Regions from separate parts of the Homo sapiens genome. Here region 2 is linked to region 1. The links come from fine-mapping of genetic effects on gene expression. Tissue or cell type: skeletal muscle. Region 1 holds a variant in brackets; the other region holds the start of a gene. All regions are shown on one strand. Distances are from middle to middle.

Evidence for each region. PIP is the estimated chance that this variant, and not a neighbour inherited with it, causes the effect.
Region 2: it holds the start of FOXL1, and the variant in region 1 is fine-mapped to the expression of FOXL1 in skeletal muscle (GTEx, PIP 0.98).

Annotation. Positions count from the first base shown.
Region 1 is chr16:86,613,280-86,616,126 of GRCh38, forward strand. No RefSeq gene overlaps it. Among named protein-coding and RNA genes, the nearest start is that of FOXL1, 36 kb to the left of the region's middle. The variant C/A (reference allele first, on the strand shown) is at 1,719.
Region 2 is chr16:86,577,155-86,579,654 of GRCh38, forward strand. It overlaps FOXL1 (forkhead box L1), which reads left to right and starts at 1,395. Exons shown (of 1, transcript NM_005250.3): 1 at 1,395-2,500. The coding sequence starts at 1,570. RefSeq lists an enhancer at 2,255-2,500.

The DNA.
Region 1 (2,847 bases):
ACTTCTGTGTCCAGAAGTGGTTGAGGAATTCAAATTCGCCAATCAGTCAACTACCCCACATAACCCCTGGACAGTGCTGGGGCCAGGGGTGCACCTGGGACCCATATAAGCCACAGTGACCCAGTGGTCATGGACCATTGGGAAAAACATTTCCCTGTTTGGGCCGGTCGCAGTGGCTCACGCCTGTAATCCCAGCACTTTGGGAGGCTGAGGTGGGAGGATCATGAGGTCAGGAGATCGAGACCACGGTAAAACCCCATCTCTACTAAAAATACAAAAGTTAGCCGGGCGTGGTGGCAGGTGCCTGTAGTCCCAGCTACTGGGGAGGCTGAGGCAGGAGAATGGTGTGAACCCGGGAGGCAGAGCTTGCAGTGAGCCGAGATTGCGCCACTGCACTCCAGCCTGGGTGACAGAGCAAGACTCTGTCACCAAAAAAAAAAAAAAAAAATTAAAAAGTAAATAAATAAATAAATAAATAAAAATTTCCCTGCTTGGCAGGGTAGCTCAGAGGGTTAGGACACAAAGTCTGGAGTACAGGAGCCACCGTGCCTCCCTCAGGGAAGCCACACACTCACACACACACATAGAATCACACACACACACTCACACACACATAGAATCACACACACACACACTCACACACACTGTTTAAGCCAGTTTGAGTTAGGTTTTTTCTCTTGCAACCAAAAGAGTTTTGACAATTGCTGAACTCATATTTTATCTACGGAAACTCATGCAAATGTTGCATTCTCTAATAACAGCTACACTTTCAGATTACTATAAAAATAATCTGCATGTATGAGAGAGATGGCAGGGTTTATTGAGTAAACGTGCTGGTGTAATTGGTTATCCACATAGATTAAAAGTGAAATTGCATCTCTATTCTCACCACACACACACACACACACACACACACACACACACACAGCCCAGATGGATTAAGAACTAAAATGTAAAAAGCAAAACTTTAAAAGTTTTAGTGGAAAATGCAGGTGGATATATTCCTGACTTTGATACAGAAAAGGATCTCTTAAACAAGAATTAAAAATGCCCCCTAAAAAAAGAAGACGGACAGAAGCAAGCCCCTCCAGACCAAACTCCTTAAGTAAAAGTGATGGTCCAGGCAGGGGGGCTGCCTTTGTTTTTAACTCCAAGTCCAGGCTTGCATGTCCTGGTTTAGAGGCACGAAGCGAGAGTATCTGTCACATTCTCTTCGGGTTGTCTTTGTTTATGTAGAAGTCCAGCTTTGGAAATTTTTTTTCCTGTGTTGATACTTTTGAATTTTGTAAAATGCGCAGAAACCTGTAACCTGTGCTTTAGAATTTCGAAAGCTGCTGAATCTGGGTTGGCTCTGGGAGGCAAGTCCATGCAAGATGTCAAAGATCATTATAGCCTGACTACAAATGCATCAGTGTGACTTTAAGGGACTTGTAAAAAATGTCTCTTCTTTTCTAAAAGCTTGCCTGTTTGCACGAAGCACACCCTCTGAGATCTGTATGCTTGCTCCAGTCACTCAAACAAGCATTTCCATTTTAGTAGCTGCCAGGGCGGCCTAGGTTATGTGGCAGTAGCAAATCCCCTTTGGATGTCAGTGGCTTTCTATTTCTAGCTAGTACTGAGTGTCCCTTGCAGGTCAGCATGGCTGTGTTCCATGTTTTCTTCAGGTGTTCAACCCAGAACCCAGGAGGAGGAAGCCGCTTTCATTTGCAACATTGTTA[C/A]CTGGAGCTGAGGGAAAAGGGCTTGGCGAACTACGGTCTGGTTCTTAAAGTGACAGGCATTTCCACTCATATTTCATTAGGCCAAGCAAGTCATGTGGCCAAGCTGGACTTAAATGGGGCAGAGGTGTGTAATTCTGTAGGAGGGAAACCAGAATTTTTGGTGCACAGTGCTAAACTCTACTTTGCATTTCAAATTGTTTGTGAAATTGAGACGTGGGCTCTGATAGCAAATAGACAACATTCACATAGTTTACAAGGTCTCACGTCTTTTCCACATGTTCCCTGAAGCATGTTCTATATGGCTTTTGTTCTGTACCCCCAGGGCTCGGCATGCCAGCAGACACATGGCAGGGGCTCAGCCTGTGTTCCTTGCTAGGCAGGTATAGCTGGCCCCACTTTCCAGATAAAAATTAAGACCCAGAGAAGCTCAAAGATAACACAGGCGACACAGAAAGGTTGATTTAGATTTTTTTTTTTTCTGCTACTTGGAGCGGCTTCCCAGGCATGTCTGCAGAGACACTTATTTTATTTGGGGAGCACTCTAAGGCCACGTAGATGTGTGGATCAGCCTCCCCTTGGCCTCCCGCTCCCTACAGCGACCACGACATGCTGAATCTGATGAATGCTGGCTACTGCGGGCTTTTATGTTTATGTATGTGTGCACCTACGTATTTATGTCTAGTGGAGTTTTCAGTTTGGTTTTTTTGTGTATTTGATGTTGTCAGACACGTTGGTGTGAGGTCTTTGTTGGACTGGGGTGTGGACGTACATGATAAGTTATTATTATTCAGAATCATTTATTTTGCATGCTTCTGAATGACAGTAATAGTTGAGGCATGCTGGTTTCAGAAGGAATCCACTCATTCAGAAAATAAGACCCGGGGATCTTCAAAAGTGCAAATGGGATGGGAGGGTGTGTGAAGGCACCTGAGTATCTGATCAACAAAAATCCAAAGGATGATTTTTTGGTTGTTTGTTGTCTACTATATATGCCTCACCATCACCCCAGGTTTTGCTTATATTGAGGGACCTAATTTTTTTTTTATTCGTGAAATTATTAGAAAGCAAACTAGCACACAAGTGATCAACTCTGGTAATATTTGGCGCACTTCTTTACTTAAATTGGATT
Region 2 (2,500 bases), 36 kb before region 1:
CATCCTCCCCCTTCCCTCATCTCTTTGACATGCTCACACGATTTGCTCAATGAGACGCCAGTTATCCGAATGTGTGTGTGTGTGTGTGGGTGTGTGTGTGACAGTGTGTGTGTGTTTTAATATTCAGGGGGTGGTCATAAACAGGAAGTAGTCACACTAGGTGCCTCTACCCTTACCCTAACCGGTGGAGTGGGGAGGAGAGGCCCCCTTCGAAATCAGCATGATTCAGGATTTTTTATTCAAACAGTGATGTGGGAAAATGTAAAATGAGATGGGGGTGGAGGGCCGCGTACACCCCAGGGTGGGTGGATACAGGGAGAGCAAGCAGGCTTCCCAAATGCCTAATGTAATCACGGGCCAGCTGCATGCACTTGTAAAGTTGTTATAACCCCCTCCTTGTTATAAACAGGAAAGCCCAGAATATAAAGCTGGAGACCCACATTCACAAATACCAGGCCTCCCGCGCCAGCTGCCACGGCCTCCTTTTATGGTGTTCCTCTCTTGCAACCTTGGCCCCATCAGGAGGACCTTACTTTTGCCCCCGGTTCTCTAAATGGGTTTATTTTGAAACCTTCCTCAATGGAGCTGTGGACCATGAGCTCTTCCCCAGGCCCCCAGTGCCTTAGGCCTTCCCTTCCAGAGAGACTGGGCTCCCAGAGTCCACTTTCCCTCCGATTTCCGGAGAGCCCTGGAAGGGAGGGTGTGGGAGAGCAGGTCCCTAGAGAGTGCCACCTCCTACTGGGTCTGCCACCTGTTTTTCCAGGGAGGGCCGCATCCCCTTCTCAGCAGACACTCAGGCTTCTTAGATACTCTCCCTGCCCCAATCTAAAAGGTTCCTAGGACCTCAGAAAGTGTTTTACTAGACTGTGGCATCTCGATATCTCCGGTTAAGCCTGGGAGAAGAAAAGACCTTTTGTGGGAGGCCCTGGCGTTATGGGGCTCCCCCAGGCCAGCGTAAAACTCATCCCTGCACACCCACCCCCATCTCCACCTCTCCTTCCTGGCTCAGCAGACCCTGCTCTGAGCCACCGCAGTCTACATCCTGCCTCACTGACTGTGTGTGCTTACAGCGTCAAGGGGTGGACGTGATATTTCAAACATCAGATCAGTGCGTTTATATATTGGGTGCCCGGAAATTTTTCCAAATAAACACAGCTTGATTCAACTTGGGTGGGCGGACTTATCAACAGACTAATTCTATAAACAAATGAAGGAATAGCCCCAAAACCGATTGGCTGGTATCAAAAAGACACGTGGAGGGAAAAGCTTGGAGTTTTTCAGCAATGAAATTTTAATTAATGTGGGTGGGCTGAGAACACAAGGACTGTTTATCATAGACAATTTATTTTCCAGGGCTAAGTCAACATATAACAGCAAACTTACAACAATTATTTAACATTTTTAAAGCCATGAAGAAGGGACAGAGCACGGAGCGGCCGGGGAGAGCGGCAGAGCCAGAGGCAGAGGCACGGCTGGCTCCCCGGGAGGGCCCTTGCGGCGCGGGGCGCAGTGCCTAGGCCGCCCGGGTCTCCTGCGTTGCGGGGAGCGCAGCGCAGGCTCTCGCTTGCCATGAGTCACCTCTTCGATCCCCGGCTGCCTGCCCTGGCCGCCTCGCCCATGCTGTATCTGTACGGTCCCGAGAGACCCGGCCTCCCTCTGGCCTTCGCCCCCGCGGCTGCTCTAGCTGCCTCGGGCCGGGCCGAGACCCCGCAGAAGCCTCCCTACAGCTACATCGCGCTCATCGCCATGGCGATCCAGGACGCGCCCGAGCAGAGGGTCACGCTCAACGGCATCTACCAGTTCATCATGGACCGCTTCCCCTTCTACCACGACAACCGGCAGGGCTGGCAGAACAGCATCCGCCACAACCTCTCGCTCAACGACTGCTTCGTCAAGGTGCCCCGCGAGAAAGGGCGGCCGGGCAAGGGCAGCTACTGGACGCTGGACCCCCGCTGCCTGGACATGTTTGAGAACGGCAACTACCGGCGCCGGAAGAGGAAGCCCAAGCCGGGCCCCGGGGCCCCGGAGGCCAAGAGGCCCCGCGCCGAGACGCACCAGCGCAGCGCGGAGGCGCAGCCGGAGGCGGGGAGCGGGGCAGGGGGCTCGGGCCCCGCAATCTCCCGCCTGCAGGCAGCGCCCGCGGGCCCCTCGCCCCTCCTGGACGGCCCCTCTCCGCCGGCGCCCCTCCACTGGCCGGGGACCGCGTCCCCGAACGAGGACGCTGGTGACGCTGCCCAGGGCGCAGCGGCCGTGGCGGTCGGCCAGGCAGCGCGCACAGGGGACGGCCCGGGGTCCCCTCTGCGCCCCGCCTCCCGCAGCTCTCCGAAGAGCTCCGACAAGTCCAAGAGCTTCAGCATAGACAGCATCCTGGCGGGAAAGCAGGGCCAGAAGCCGCCTTCAGGGGACGAACTCCTAGGGGGTGCCAAGCCTGGGCCCGGCGGCCGTCTGGGTGCCTCGCTCCTGGCCGCCTCCTCCAGCCTCCGTCCGCCTTTCAACGCTT